Regions from separate parts of the Homo sapiens genome. Here region 1 is linked to region 2. Evidence: fine-mapped expression QTL. Tissue or cell type: whole blood. Region 2 holds a variant in brackets; the other region holds the start of a gene. All regions are shown on one strand. Distances are from middle to middle.

The links. PIP is the estimated chance that this variant, and not a neighbour inherited with it, causes the effect.
Region 1: it holds the start of RAB11FIP3, and the variant in region 2 is fine-mapped to the expression of RAB11FIP3 in whole blood (TOPMed, PIP 0.99).

What each region holds. Positions count from the first base shown.
Region 1 is chr16:420,626-428,796 of GRCh38, forward strand. It overlaps RAB11FIP3 (RAB11 family interacting protein 3), which reads left to right and starts at 5,024. Exons shown (of 14, transcript NM_014700.4): 1 at 5,024-6,095. The coding sequence starts at 5,382.
Region 2 is chr16:358,480-366,650 of GRCh38, forward strand. No RefSeq gene overlaps it. Among named protein-coding and RNA genes, the nearest start is that of MRPL28, 8.0 kb to the right of the region's middle. RefSeq lists enhancers at 2,395-3,243, 3,244-4,091, 4,720-5,227, 5,228-5,734, 5,735-6,241. The variant G/A (reference allele first, on the strand shown) is at 3,854.

The DNA.
Region 1 (8,171 bases), 62 kb after region 2:
CCTGGGCAACAAGAACAGAATTCTGTCTAAAAAAATAAATGAAAAATGGTATTACATAGCATGTACTATCAATTGTGCAGATGTGGTGCACTCACTTAAACTGCTACACTTCACAACAGACAACAGGCTCCACTGAAGCCGTTCGGCTCTTCTTCCAGAGAAGTACAAATCCCCGAAGGAAACAAGGTCTTTCCATCTCCCTGCGGACATGTGCAGTTTCTCCGGCAGGTACTGGAAGGCGGATCCCACACTGGAGTATTCCGACCTTCAGCTGCACGACTGGTGCCAAATCCCCACTCCCTGGTGTCCCCAGACTTACTCTGATTGGTGTCAAGGGCTACACTCACACATTTTCCTGGTGACCAGTGAAGATGAGCATCTTTTTCATGTGTTTACCGGCCACCTGAATTTCCTCTTCTGGAGCTGCTTATTCATATTCTTTCCTCGTTTTTCTATCGGGTTGCTGTTCGTTTACTGTTTTTTGAGAAATTCTTTTGTGTATTCTAGAAATGAATATTTTGTCCATTAAATCCATTCTAACTCTCTCTTCCCAGTTGCTACCCCAAAATTTATATATTGGAGTCCTAACGCCAACGGGATGGTATTTGGAGATGAGGTCTTTGGGAGGTATAACTTAGGGTTAGGGCCGGGCGCGGTGGCTCACGCCTGTAATCCCAGCACTTTGGGATGCCGAGGCGGGTGGATCATGAGCTCAGGAGATCGAGACCATCCTGGTTAACACGGTGAAACCCCGGCTCTAGTAAAAATACAAAACAATTAGCCAGGCATGGTGGCGGGTGCCTGTGGTCCCAGCTACTGGGGAGGCTGAGGCAGGAGAATGGCATGAATCCGGGAGGCAGAGATTGCAGTGAGCTGAGATGGCGCCATTGCACTTCAGCCTGGACGACAGAGCAAGACTCCGTCTCAAAAAAAAATAATAATAATAATAATTAGGGTTAGATACGGTCAGCAAGGTGGGGCCCTCACGATGGGAACAGTGCCCTTATTAGAAGAGACAGTCTTTTTTTTTCTTTTTTCTTTTTTTGAGACGGAGTTTCACTCTTGCTGCCCAGGCTGGAGTGCCATGGCACAATCTCGATTCACTGCAACCTCCGCCTCCCAGGTTCTAGTGATTCTCCTGCCTCAGCCTCCCAAGTAGCTGGGATTACAGGCATGCACCACCATGCCTGGCTAATTTTTTGTATTTTTAGTAGAGATGGGGTTTCACCATGGCAAGCCTGGTCTTGAACTCCTGACCTCAGGTAATCCACCCGCATCGGTCTCCCAGAGTGCTGGGATTACAGGCGTGAGGCACCGTGCCCAGCCTTATTTTTATTTTATTGTTTTCCTTGAGATGGAGTTTCCCTCTTGTTGCCCAGGCTGGAGTGCAATGGTGGGATCTTGGCTCACTGCAACCTCCACCTCCCGGGTTCAAGTATTCTCCTGCCTCAGCCTCCCAGGTAGCTGGGATTACAGGACACGCCACCACGCTCAGCTAGTTTTTGTATTTTTAGTAGAGACAGGGTTTTACCATGTTGGCCAGGCTAGTCTCGAACTCCTGACCTCAGGTTATCCACCCGCCTTGGCCTCCTAAAGTGTTGGGATTACAGGCGTGAGCCATTACGCCCGCCTTTTTTTTTTTTTTGAGATAGTCTCGCTCTGTTGCCCAGGCTGGAGTGTAGTGGCTGGATCTCAGCTCATTGCAACCTCTGCCTCCCAGGCTCAAGTGATTACCCTGTTCAGCCTCCTGAGTAGCTGGGATTACACGCACCCGCCACCGCCCCCGGATAATTTTTTTTCTTTTTTTTTGAGACAGAGTCTCACTCCATCACCCAGGCTGCAGTACAGTGGTGTGATCTTGACTCACTGCAACCTCCACCTCCCGGGTTCAAGCAATTCTTTGCCTCAGCCTCCTGAGTAGCTGGGATTACAGGTGCCCGCCACCACGGCCGGCTAATATATACATATATTTTTTAGGTGGAGTCTCGCTCTGTCGCCAGGCTGGAGTGCAGTGGTGCGATCTTCGCTCACTGCAACCTCTGCCTCCCAGGTTCAAGCGATTCTCCTCCCTCAGGCTCCCGAGTAGCTGGGACTACAGGTGGGTGCCACCACACCCGGCTAATTTTTGTATTTTTAGTAGAGACAGGGTTTCACCATGTTTGCCAGGATGTTTTCGATCTCTTGACCTTGTGATCCGCCCACCTTGCCTCCCAAAGTGCTGGGATTATAGGCTGAGCAACCGCGCCCGGCCTAAATTTTCTATTTTTTAGTAGATACGGGGTTTCACCATCTTGGCCAGGCTGGTCTTGAACTCCTGACCTCGTGATCCACCCGCCTCGGCCTCCCAAAGTGCTGGAATTACAGGCATGAGCTCCCACGCCCAGCCCAAAAGAGACAATCTTTCTCCAACATGTGAGGACAGAGTGAGAAGATGGAGGCTATGCTTTGAATGTTTATACCCTCCAAAACGCATGTTGAGGCCAAGTGTGGTGACTCATGCCAATAATCCCAGCACTTTGGGAGGCCGAGGTGGGCGGATCACTTGAGGTCAGGAGTTTGAGACCAGCTTGACCAACATGGTGAAACCCCGGTCTCTACTAAAAATACAAAAAATTAGCCGGCCTTGGTGGCATACGCCTGTAATCCCAGCTACTCAGGAGGCTGAGGTAGGGGAATCACTTGAACCCGGGAGGCGGAGGTTGCAGTGACCAGAGATCGCGCCATTGCACTCCAGCCTGGGCGACAGAGTGAGACTCCATATCAAAAAAAAAAAAAAGATAATAAGGTGCTGCAGATCTGTGGTCTCAGCTACTGGAGAGGCTGAGGTGGGAGGATCTCTCTTCTATTTTTATTTTTTATTTTGGAGACGGAGTCTTGCTCTATCATCCAGGCTGGAGTGCAATGGTGCAATCTTGGCTCGCTGCAAGCTCTGCCTCCCGGGTTCACGCCTTTCTCCTGCCTCAGCCTCCCAAATAGCTGGGACTACAGGTGCCTGCCACCACACCTGGCTAATTTTTGTTTTTTTGTATTTTTAGTAGAGACGGGGTTTCACCGTGTTAGCCAGGATGGTCTCCATTTTCTGACCTCGTGATCCGCCCGCCTCAGCCTCCCACAGTCCTGGGATTACAGGCATGAGCTACCACACCTGGCCTAAGGTGGGAGGATCTCTTGAGCCTAGGAGGTTGAGGCTGCCGTGAGCTATGGTCGCACCACTGCACTGCAGCCTGGGCAACAGAGCAAAACCCTGTCTCGGGGAAAAAAAAGAAAAGAAAAGAAAAGAAGGAACTGCTACAGCCCACAGCCTACAAAGGGGACACAGATAGTAGCTCTGAACAGCAGACGGATAGACGGGAACTTGTCCCTTTAGTCTTTCATGAACAGCCTCTAACTGGTCCAGGCAGGGAGGTGCAGGCTTCCAGGCTGTGGTTCCATGGAGGACACCAGCCGGGCACGCAATGGACGTTTTCCAGCCCTAGCACAGACAGAGCGTGCGGGCCCCTGCTCTCAGAAAGCCAGCCTTCTGCCTCTGGCAGCGCCGGCACATAAAAGCAGAGGGAGCCTGCTGTCTCTGCCTCGCCCACACTAACACCCCTATTTAGAAAGGTTGACACATCACTATCACTGCTTCTGAAAATTTTATCCGGCCGAAGGCATCAGCCCAAATTTGAATTCTTGCCAAAGCTGCTGGTGATTTCGTTCTTTGAATGCAGTATCTTCCTCATGAACACGTACAGCTCTTACAAGAAAATGAGAATACGGTTTGGGGAGGAGGATCCCTCACATTCCTTTTCCTAATGCCAGCCTCGCGAAGTCTGGTCCCATGTACCCTGGGATTCTGCCACGGAAGATGACTCACTTAATTAACACGCTGCTCCTGACCGTACACTTGGAAGCAGAGGTTCCGTTCCTTTGGTTCTTGCCAAAGCTGCTTACGAAACCATATCTTGTGTTGGTGCCCATGGTGTGTAAAAATACAAGTTCATCATTTCCCTGATACAAATTATGACAGGCTAAATTTAGTGCCTCACCTGTCCTAACTAGCTTTCCCACCATCATGCCTGCCGCCGGGCTGTGGTCCTTTCTGAGGTCCCGTGTCCCTCTGAGGACAGGGACACCCAGACACAGAGGTCAGTTGTCAGACGCGGCCACGGTGCTCGGGAGGCTGGCTGCAGACGGGCGATTCACCCTGGGTGTCTTCTTGAGTCTTATTTTTTGTAGAGACGAGGTCTCGCTTTGGTGCTCAGGCTGGTCTCAATCTCCTGGGCGCAAGCGATCCTCCCGCTTGGGCGTGGGCCAGCGCGCCCGTCCCAACGCTGGGAGTCCCGGAGATCTTGGTCACAGGCTTAAGGGAAAGGCCTAGCGCGTGGCCGCGCGTGCCTCTGGTTTCAAGGGACATGGACTGCGTGTCTGGGGCCCCTCCGCACTCCGTGTCAGACCCTGCGTCCCCCGGGTCCGCGCGGGACCCGGGCAGGGCGTCGCCCTCTGCGGCGTCTGCGCCCCGCGAACCCTGGGGCACCTGCAACCCCTGGGCCGCGGAGCCAGGCGTGCGCCGCCTCCTGGTCTCATCAACGTGAGAACGCTTTACCCCCGAAGAGCTCAGCTCCTAGGGGGCTATGTCCCTTTGCGTCTCTCGCTCGCCAGGCGGTGCCGTTTACTCGACCGCACCATGCGTGGGTAGCGGTCGCGCCCGCTGGTAGCTGTGCGGCGGGAACACGTTCTAAGTAAGGCCTGACTCCGCGCGCCTCTTGCCAGGGACGTCACGTCACGCCTCCACTCGCAGCCTCGGAGCACCCCCGCGTCCCGCGCCCGAAGCTCGGGACCCCCGCTCTGGCGAAACGAGGAATATGACATACAGCAAAACACCCCTTCGCGGCCGCTGCACTGCCGCGACACACCCGGCGCCTGCCTCTACAGCAAGCCGGCGAGGGGCTGGGACCCCGCCGGGACGTGCTGACGTCAGGCCCGACGGGGGGCGGGGCCTGGGCGGCGGCGGCGTTAGTTCTCCGGGTACCTCAGGCGCCTCAGCCTCCTTAGTCTCCTCATCCTGCTTCACAGGCTCCGCGGCCTCCGGCCTCCTCGGCCCCCGTCCCCCGGCCTCCTCGGCCCCCGTCCCCCGCCATCCGCCGCCCGGATCCTCGCCGCCCTCCCTAGGCCGCCCCGCCGCCATGGGCCTGCGCCCGCCGCGCCGCCGGGCCGAGGGCAGCTGAGGCGCGGTGCGAAGATGGGCGAGGACAGAGCAGGGCCCGAGCGCCAGCCCCAGCAGCCCGGGCGCCCCGCGCGCGCCCGCCCGCGCCGCCGAGGGGATGCCCGCGCCCGCCGCCGCGCCCTGAGCGCCTTTGTCTGCCGCCCGCGCCCTTCCGCACCACTAGCCTCTCGGGAGCATGGCGTCGGCCCCGCCGGCCTCGCCCCCGGGCTCGGAGCCGCCGGGGCCCGACCCGGAGCCGGGCGGGCCGGACGGGCCGGGGGCGGCACAACTGGCTCCGGGCCCTGCGGAGCTACGCCTCGGAGCGCCCGTCGGCGGCCCCGACCCGCAGTCCCCGGGCCTGGATGAGCCTGCGCCCGGGGCCGCTGCAGATGGCGGGGCGCGTTGGAGCGCCGGGCCGGCCCCGGGGCTGGAGGGAGGCCCGCGAGACCCCGGGCCGTCCGCCCCGCCGCCGCGCTCCGGCCCGCGGGGGCAGCTTGCGAGCCCCGACGCCCCGGGCCCAGGGCCGCGCTCCGAAGCGCCGCTTCCAGAACTCGACCCGTTGTTCTCCTGGACTGAGGAGCCCGAGGAGTGTGGCCCCGCGAGCTGCCCGGAGAGCGCGCCTTTCCGCTTGCAGGGGTCCAGCAGCAGCCACCGAGCGCGGGGCGAGGTCGACGTCTTCTCTCCCTTCCCCGCGCCCACGGCGGGCGAGCTGGCGCTGGAGCAAGGTCCCGGGTCCCCGCCGCAGCCCTCGGACCTCAGCCAGACCCACCCCCTTCCGAGCGAGCCCGTGGGGAGTCAGGAGGACGGCCCCCGCCTCCGAGCCGTGTTCGATGCCCTGGACGGGGATGGGGACGGTTTCGTCCGCATCGAGGACTTCATCCAGTTTGCTACGGTCTACGGGGCAGAGCAGGTACGGAGCGGCCCGGGCCGGGGCGTGGGAACTGGGCAGGTGCGCGCTGGCCGGCGGGGTTGATGTGGGACCGGTCGACGCTGCCCCTGGAGTCGGGAAAGGCACTGTCAAGACCTGACGGTCCTGCTTTTTCTGCTTATTCACCACTTCGGCCCTGGATTTCTGGTTGAATTGCGCTGGAGTCCCTCTTCCCTTCTTAAAAGGAGGTTCTATTCTGGGGAGTCAGTTTCTTCCCCTCCCCCCAGCGCCTCGTCAGCTGGATCTTACCGAGGTCAGCTCCTCGCCTGGGGACACCCCCCCAGGGGGCCTGATCGCCACCCCCCCAGGGTGCCTGATCGACGTGCCCCTGAATGAAGAAGTTCCCCGCGATTCCCCCACCCGAGGGCCCAGATACTGCTCGGCTGAATTCACCCAAGTTCTAGCCGCAGAGGCCAGGCTGCCCAGACGCCTTGAGATCCTACTGATAGACACCTATTTTGAGTACAATTACTTTACTGTGTGTGGTTGACATCTTTTCTACTTAGATTTCATCTTTTATTTGGGAGACAGTCAATGCTTGTAGAGAGTCCTGGAATTAAGAATTTTTACTTTGGTGCCTTTGGGGAGGAAGGCAATGAGCCTCGGAGCTTGTTGGCAAATGCAGAAGTCTAGCAGAACTCCGTTAGGGCCACGTCCACTCTCGTAGGAGAGGTGAAATGCGTGGACAGGCACTACGCACAGTACAGTGTGGAAGGGGTCCACGCGGTCCTCAGGGCACCTGCTCCTGGGGGAAAGGTGGGCCCCAAGATGCAGTTGTTCCTGTCTACCTCAGCACTTAATAAAGTTTAAGTGGAGATAACAGCAGGGCCGTGTGTGTTCTGCCAATAACCCGGTGGACATCAAATAATACCAGTGCTCACTTTTAAATATTTTACTTAGCAGGAAATCCCTAAGGTGCATCTGTCAATTTTTTGTATTTTGACTTCTCACACATGCAGACATCTGGTAAGTGGGTGTTCAAGTACATATGCATGTTTAAGCCAAGAGGTCTGTAAGAAAAGAGGTAAAATTGGCACACTGCTATTTAGGGTGTCAGTCATAACATTAAGAACCTTGATGGTCGGGCGCGGTGGCTCATGCCTGTAATCCCAGCACTTTAGGAGGCCGAGGCGGGCGGATCACGAGGTCAGGAGATTGAGACCATCCTGGCTAATATGGTGAAACCCCGTCTCCACTAAAAAATACAAAAAAATTAGTCGGGCGTGGTGGCGGGCACCTGTACTCCTAGCTACTCGGGAGGCTGAGGCAGGAGAATGGCGTGAACCCGGGAGGCGGAGCTTGCAGTGAGCGGAGATCGCGCCACTGCACTCCAGCCTGGGCGACAGAGCGAGACTTCGTCTCAAAAAAAAAAAACAGCAACAAAACAAAAAACACAGGGTCCTGATAAATCAGGGTTCCTTGCTGAGTTCACATTAAGAAGATGTGCAGACAGGTGCGTGCGGGGCAGCCTGCAATGCTCGCAAGCTTAGCTCCGGTTGGGATATTGTCAGGGTAGTTTTCCACCTACACTAATGGGCAGTGAAATATGTGACTGATACTTTCCTGTATGGTCAGCGTGGATGGTGGTTGCTGGTCCAGGTGTTTTGCTGCGTTTCCTTCTTGCCCCTGGGCTGGAGAGCACCTTGAGCTCCCTTGGTTGCTGTTGGCTACTGCGCTGTCTCTTCTCCCAAACATACTCTTGCTTCAGTACAGCAAAGAAGTTAGGAGAGTACCACATTTGCTCCTTGTTACCATAACCCAACTCTTGATAGAGAACTTCTGTGAGGCTCAGGATGTTTCCACTGGATCATACCACAGTTCTCTGAGATAGTAGGTAAGCAGGATTCATCCCCACTTTACAGGTAAGAAACTGGAAACCCAGAAAGGTCAGATAGCTCTCCCAAGGTCTCACAGGAGTAGAACTAGGTCTTTTGGCCCTTAGACCTTAGATGCCTCTTCTTAGATGTGGTGGCTCACAATATCCCTATTGTGATAATATCTTACTGACTTTCATACAATTCTTTTTATTTGAGAAACATCTTTTGTCATAACCTCCCT
Region 2 (8,171 bases):
CTGTGGTCAGGAGGACCCACCCACAGAGAGGTGGAGGGTGAACCACTCAGCCGCTGCGGGGCAGGGGCCCAAAGAAACGGGTGCTGTGTGTGGCCAGGCTCGGTGGCTCACACCTGTAATCCCAGCACTTTGGGAGGCTGAGGCGGGTGGATCACCTGAGGTCAAGAGTTCGAGACCAGCCTGGCCAACATGGTGAAACCCCGTCTCTACTAAAAATACAAAAATTAGGCCAGGCACAGTGGTTCACGCCTGTAATTTTAGCACTTTGGGAGGCCAAGGTGGGCGTATCACCTCAGGTCAGGAGCTCGAGACCAGCCTGGCCAACGTGGTGAAACCCCATCTCTACTAAAAATGCAAAAAATTAGCCAGGTATGGTGGCAGGCCCCTGTAATCTCGGCTACTGGGGAGGTTGGGGCAGGAGAATCACTTGAACCCAGGAGACAGAGGTTGCAGTGAGCCAAGATTGTGCCAAGGCACTCCAGCCTGGGCAACAGAGTGAGACTCCATCTCAAAAAAAAAAAAAAAAAAGAAAAAGAAATGAAACGGCTGCTGTGGCCACAGTGCTTGGTCCCCGCTGGCTCCGGGTCCATACTTGTCCCCTGGGGCAGGCCCCAGACCTGCCGTCACCCACGTCGCCTGCGCCCAGCCCCGTCCAGCAGACCTGACAGTCCCCACATCCCCGCTGGCCTCCAGGGGTCAAGGGTCAGGACGCCAAGGCCAACAGGAAAGCACTGGCAACAGGGCGGGGGCCTGGCCAGCCAGGCGGCCCAGAGGCGGTCCCCTCCATCCCAGGGTACTGTCCACACCTCCCAGTGTCCTGAGGGGAGTCCTCCTGCACTGCCTTTCTGAAGAGTTCTGACCCCAGGGTGTCCAGGGGCTGGGACTGGGGCCAGGTGGATACCAGGATGTGGTCAAGTAGGCCTGCCTGGAGGGTCCGGCCGCAGGGGCTGGGGAAGTAGGAGGGGAGGGCGGCCACCACTTCCCAACTCGGGAGCTGCTGACATCAGGGGACTGTTGGGCCTGGCCTGGCACCTGCCTCCCAGGAGACCTGAGTGCCCATCCTTGTCTTGGGCCAGCCTGTAGCCCTAGGCAAAGCAGGCACCTCCTTGTGCCAGTGTCCCCCTGGGCAAAGTGATCGTCCTGACCTGGCCTCACAGCCCCAGAGGTCCGTGTGTGACCCTCTCTGACAGGCCGGGTGGCGGGATGGAGCCCACGGCTGGCCATGGACCAGGTCTGGTGTCCCAGGCACATTGTGAGCACAGGGCAGGGCCTGCTGGCCTCCCCCAACCTCAGTGCTGTTTTCCCAAAAAGAGGTGGCATCCAAGTGCAGGGGCCATGCCCCGAGGGGCCTCGCGCTGACTTCGGGAAGTAGCAGGTGACGTCCCACCTCCCTGGGCAGCCTCAGGCCGCTTCCTGTCCTTGTTGGGGGGACTCCTGCCCCTGCCACACCGACCACAGTCCTTGTCCCTGCTGTTCCCTCACCTGAACGCCCTTCCCTGCCCTGACGGCCTCCATCCCACACGCCTCTCCGGGCGCTGCCGCCCCCCCGTTGGTGCTCATCTGTCCTTCTGCCCACTATCCCCAGCGGCCCCGATACCTGCACACCCCAGTGCCCAGCGGTTCCCCCTCGAGCTGGCAAGGGGACATTAAATGGGAGGTGAGGAAGTGCGGCCCCCAGCGGGCAGCTGCCTTTGCCCCGGCCCACCTGCGCCCCCGCCCACCTGTGCCCTCCGCCGCCTCCCTCTGCTTGGCTGTCCCAAGATGTCTCTCTCCACTGCCTAGGAACCCTGAGGCCGCGGCCAAGTTCTGAGCGTGTGACTGTGTGTGCTGGGCCCCAGGCCCCTTTGTCGCCGCGGCGTCTGTCGTGGCAAACAAAAGTGAACCGGATTAGCCACAGTGGATTAAAAGATTTACGTCTCAGAGTTTACCTAATAACCTAACAATCGTGTCAACGGGAGCTTTGAACCCCCAGGGCGCGCCTGCCAGGCCAACTGAGAGCTCAAGGCCTCTGTGGGCAGCAGGACGTGGTCGGGGGGAGGAGACGCAGCCACGGCTGTCCTCACACCCAGCTCGGCCCCTGCGGGCTCCTCTGGGCAGAACCTGGGGAAGGCACGGCCTCTAGCAGGAGGTGGAGGCCTTTGAAAGGGTGCAGGTGTTGGGACCAGGTACCCGGCCCAGGCCCCCAGCCGCGTCCACACACGTCGCACACGGCAGCAAGGACGCAAGCAGTGTGGAGGTGGCCGCGTCGGCGACGTATGGGCCCCGTGGTGCTGCGGTGCACGACCTCTGTGCTGTCACCCCACAGTGTCCGCTCCTGCACGTACACGCGTGCACGCGCACACACGTGCACACGCACACACACACAAGCACGCCCCGCTTTGATCTCTAAAGGAGAGTCCATTGACAAGCTCTTAATCGCAGCTGCCCTTGCAGGGCCTGTCCCTGAAGTCCCGAGTAATGGGATTTGGCGCTTCTGATCCATCGGGCTGGCCGCTTCCCGTGTCATAGGTGGACATTTTTTTTCTTTATATCGCTTCTGTTTCTTTTTTTTTTTTCTCCTCGAAAAAATGCTGCTTAAACGGCACCGACTTGACATGGCTTGTCTCCTAACCTTGGAGTGGCGGCCGGGACGCCGGCCTGGATCAGTCGGGGGTCTTTGATGCCGCCTCCATGTGAAACCTGACGTGGAAGACCCACCGGGGCGGTTTTGGGGTCCGAGGTCCGTCAGGATTCATCCTGCCTCACCCTGCTCCCTTTGTCTCTTCCCCTGACCCTTCCTCGGGACACCCGGAGAGGGTCTGAGGGTGAGGGTGCGGGCGCTGCGTGTGGGCTTGCACTCGAGGGTGGGGTGGGCCGAGGGCAGGGCCGCAGCCGCGAGAACAATGGGCAGAGGAGGCGCGTCCACCTGTCCGCCCGGCCGCCTGCCCGGCTTACCTCACCTGCCTGGCTCCGTGTGCCTGCTCACGCCCCACCGTCCCGCTGTCCGCCATGATGGGCTTGGCCGTCCGTCCGAGCACTTTCAGCCACTCTGGGAAGCAGGTCCCTGCTCTTGGCCACTGTGTGGCTGGGAGGCAGAAGCGTGACTCTGGGCTGCAGCTCGGGCTCCTGCCGCCGATTGGCTGAGGCAGGGACCAGATGACGGGCCTCAGAACCCTATGGTAGCCATGGCAACCAGCCCCTTTAGACACCGCCACCCCCGAGCCACTCCTGACTGCTGAGGGAGCAGGCGGCACTGCCCGTGGGCCCATGCCAGGGTCCCCTTGGAGGAACGAGGTGGGCATGGCTGCATGGTAGCTGTCCCCACAACAGCTGTTAAGCGTTTCCGTGTGTTTCATTCATGTCCAGTGTGTGGGGTCCTTGCCCCTCTCCTGGCCTGTCCGGGGCCACTCTGTGCCCTGCCTTACCCCCAGCAGAGGCAGAAGCACTGGCCTTGCAGCCCCTGCTGAGAGGAGGACTTCAGGTCAGGCTTGCCTCAGGGGCTGAAGGCCAGGCCCAGTCTGGTGGGAAAATAAAGGGTGGGAGCAGTGGAAGCGGGAGCAGGGAGAACTTCCCAGCCCCACTGGGCAGAGCCAAGCTCTCGCCCACCTCAGACGGCAAAGGCTGCCAGCTTTCTCTCCGCCCACAGTCCACTCCGCCACCCTCTCGTTAGCTGCGGCCTGTGGAATACGTGCACGTGCTCACACAGTCCCGTCTCACAAGCCCCCTGAGGCCCCTCCCGAGGCCTTGCTCCCTGGACCTTGGGTTCCCACTGGGCAGGACTCTGGGTCTTTGGCCACACTGAGGAGACCGTCTCGCCATCAGTCACACACCTGCGGCTGCACCCGCTCTCCCCTGGGCTGCAGTGCCCTCTTGC[G/A]TCCCAAGAACGCCTCTTCCCTCCAGGGCGCACCAGCATTGGCCCCTGGCAAAGCTTTCCCGTATGTCTGGAGACGAGGCTTCTCAACCGTCACCCGTGGACATCCTGGGCACTGCAGGGCACTGAGCATCCCCGGAACCACCCCCTGCCCCCAGCCCCGTGACAGCCAGAAACAGTGTTGGCTTGTCCACGCGCTCTGACAGCAGCACTGCCTGGCCAAGACCCCTTCGAAGGCTTCCCCTAAGCCCGGGAAGCTGAGTCCCACTTCCTGGCCCAGGCCCAGCACCCGATGAGCAGAATCTGGTGATGAACAGCTGCAGGACTGCAAGGAGCAAGCGAGAGCCTTGGGCTGCTGCAGCCCAGGGAGGCCACTACCAAGGCCATCAGAGGGACCCGGGATCCAGGGGAGCCTGGAGCATGGTCCATGGGGATCCACCTTCAAGAGAGCGACTTCGGGGCCAGTCCCAGGGAACCGGGCTTGGCATGGGCCTGGGCGCCGGGGGTCTCGGGCCGCGGCTGCTCCCCCAGGACTCTGGGCGCCGGGGGTCTCGGGCCGCGGCTGCTCCCCCAGGACTCTGGGCGCCGGGGGTCTCGGGCCGCGGCTGCTCCCCCAGGACTCTGGGCGCCGGGGGTCTCGGGCCGCGGCTGCTCCCCCAGGACTCTGGGTCCGGATCCAAGCTTCTTCGCACTGGCCTGGTTGTGAGCCGCCTGTCCCAGGATGGAACCCGGCCTTGAAGCCCTTCCCATGCCATGCTCAGAGCTACCAGCTTGTCTGGGGACAGGATGTGGGTAGGGACACCATCCCAGGACAGCAGGCAGTGGTTAGGGAGGATGGTCCAAGGCTGGAGCCCGCCTAGGGAGGGCTGCGGGGCGCTGCGGCAGAGGGAGCCAGGACCGCACGGGAGCCCAGGCTGCTGGGTGTGGCCATGTGGCCAGGGTTCCAGCTTGGGTGGCTGGTGGGTGTCAGAGGGACAGGGACTCAAGGGAGCCTGGGAGCCCCACACAATCCAGCCCGTGCCTGGGGCCAGCAGAGGGCTGGAGTTACAGACGGGCACTGGTGAGAGGGCGAGGGCGGCCAAGGACTGAAGGTGGAGGCGGAGCCCTAAGCAGGCCCGCGGGACACACAGTGGTCTCCCGGCAGCTCCCTTGGGCTCCCAGCACCCTGACGGGGGCACAGGACAGGAGCAGAGTTGCCAAGCGACCCAGAGGGCCCGCCCGCTCTCCATGCCCTTCCCTCCACTATCCTGCTGCTCTGTGCACCTGAGCAGGACTCAGGAAGCAGGCGAGACCCTTGGGGTCAGGGGTCAGACATGGACTTGTGACTGGGTGCCTCAGGCCAGCCTCACATCCACTCCACCCTACCCTTCCTGGCCTTGGCTTCCCCGTCTCTATGTGGAGTGATGGGGTCACTGACACCCCTTCCAGTCCTCCAGTTTTCTACCCCCAAGGGATCCCTGCCCATAGCCGTGAGGGTCCACCCCGGAGTCCACCCTCAGGTCCACAGCCCATTCTCTGCCCGACACCGCGGCTGACTGTTGTCATGGAAACACATGGCCTCTGCCAAGCCTGGGACACGCGTGGGGAACTCCTGGCCCCTGAGGGCTCCGAGAGGCTGGGGCTGGTGCAGGCCGGCCCAGGGCAGCTCTGCCTCCTGTGGGGTTGATCTTGCTCTGCACAGATCCCTCTCCCACTCCAGGTGCCTGAGGGTCTGCACGCCTCAGTGAGGGAGAACTGGCCGTTCTCAGAGACGGAGTCCAACACTTCAGGAAGGAGCCTGACAGGTGTGATTGGTGAGGATGGCAGAAGGAGGGTCTGGTGGCCCCAGCCCGGCCTGGCTCTGGAAGGGGTGGGGTGGGCATAGGGAGGGCAGGGAAGGGGTGGGGTGGGCGCGGGGAGGGCGGGGTGGGCGTGGGGAGGGCGGGGAGGGCGGGGAGGGGTGGCCAGCAGCCATTCCCAGGTTGGCTGCCCGGGCTCCCAGCTCAGTTCTCAGTTCCCCACACACATGTTGGAGCCGGTACAGTCCCTGGGACCCCTCCCCACAACCCAGAAGGCAGAATAGCATGCTGGATCCAGCTGCTGGGTCTGTCCCAGACCTGAGTCACGGTTTGGTCTTGAGGGATGGGTCCGGCATTTACGGAAGGCCTCTTACCTTTTTCTCAGTCAAGGACTTTTGTGGCCTCTGACCAGAAAGTTGTCAGGGCCCTGGCCACACCCAGACCCCACCTCAGTCTGGCCTGGCCTCCCCTGCGGGAGGACTAAACAGCCATGGGTTCCATCGAGGTGACTGGCAGAGGAGGTAACCTGCTGAGGCCAAATGCAGCTTCTCCCACTGGCCAGCTGGTAGCCTGGTCCCAAACCCACAACCCTGAGTCAACACAAGTCAGGACACACTGATAAGCACGTGCCACCATGGCCGACAGGGGGACCGAGGCCAGCGCCTACCAGCCCATTGCCAAGCCTGGCCCCTAACTTCTTGGGGCCCCCAGAGTCTGACCCAGGAAGCCCTACAGGCCTTGGCAGGAGCCCTGCTTACCGTGGGGCTTGGTTGGGGTGGGAAAGAGCAGGTGGTGAGTGAGGGGCAGCCACCGAGGCCTGAGTTGGGAGGTGCTGGACACACACACCATCAGGGAGTCAGGGGCAGGCCGAGGGGCTGGAGGGGGCTTGGCTTAAGTTCACAGCTGAACACGGGAACTGTGCAGGGCAGGGCGTGGCCACAACATCCCAACTCTGGCTAGAGCTGGGGCACGGAACAGCACTCATGCTGTGGGCAGCTGGGCTGAGCCTCATGGCCCCACAGAGCTGACTGAGCACTGTCTGTTTTTCATAAAGTGTTTTTTTTTTGAGACAGAGTTTTGCTCTTGTTGCCCAGGTGGAGTGCAATGGTGCAATCGTGGCTCACTGCAACCTCCACCTCCCGGGTTCAAGCAATTCGCCTGCTTCAGCCTCCCAAGTAGCTGGGATTACAGGTGTGCGCCACCACACCCGGCTAAATTTTTGTATTTAGTAGAGATGGGGGTTTCACTATGTTGTCCAGACTAGTCTTGAACTGCTAACCTCAGGTGATCTGCCTGCCTCAGCCTCCCAAAGTGCTGGGATTATAGGTGTAAGCCACAGTGCCCGGTATGATTTTTATTTATTTTTTTGAGACGGTGTCTCGCTCTGTCGCCCAGGCTAGAGTGCAGTGGTGCGATCTCCACTCACTGTAACCTCCACCTCCCGGGTTCATGCCATTCTCCTGCCTCAGCCTCCCGAGTAGCTGGGACTACAGGCACCTGCCACCATGCCCAGCTAACTTTTTTGTATTTTTAGTAGAGATGGGGTTTCACCGTGTTAGGTCTCGATTTCCTGACCTCGTGATCCGCCCGCCTCGGCCTCCCAAAATGCTGGGATTACAGGCGTGAGCCACTGCGCCCGGCCTTTTTTTTTTTCTTTTTGAGACAGAGTCTCGCTCTGTCACCCAAGCTGGAGTACAGTGGTGCAATCTCAGCTCACTGCAAGCTCTGCCTTCCAGGTTCAAGCGATTCTCCTCCCTCAGCCTCCCGTGTAGCTGAGATCACAGGCATGTGTCAACATGCCTAGCTAATTTTTTGTATTTTTAGTAGAGATGGGGTTTCACCGTGTTGGCCAGGATGGTCTCTATCTCCTGACCTCGTGATCCACCCGCCTCGGCCTCCCAAAGTGCTCGGATTACAGGTGTGAGCCACCGTGCCTGGCCTAAAATTTTTTTCAAGGTCGTTCACAGAGCAGGGGCATCACATGAAGGCACTGGTGTGGGGAGCAGCAGGACATGTCGGCAGAGGTGCCCGGTGTGGAAAGAGACCTCGGGGGCCCTCCCAGGGCTCTGAACCAGGCAGGTCCTGACCCCAGGGACCCCTTGCGGCCCCGGGAGCCACGTGCTCCCCTGCAGTCCAGCAGGGCCAACTGCAGACTCCCTCTGGACTCTGCCACAGCCCCCTTGGGAGCCAGGGGCCCCTCAATCAGCCAGCAGGCCCACGTCAGGCAGCTGCCTCCAGTTCACCCCATCCTGCCACCAGCTGGGGCTGGCTTAGGCTCAGGGGACATAAACCCCCCCTTGTCATTCTGCACATGCAGCTGGGGGAGCCCTCCCTCTGTGCTCCCTGGGAAAACCGAATGGGTCCGGAGGATCAGGATTTCCAGGTAAGGGTTGGGGGAGAGGGTCAGGTACCCCCAAAACCTCAGGGCGGGAAATGCCTTAGGGTGCACAGCCCGGCTTCCCGCTGGCCAAACCTCCACCCTGCAGGTCAGGTGGAGGTAGCAGGAGGGGACACCAAGGTCGCAGGTCCCCAAGTTCGTGTCG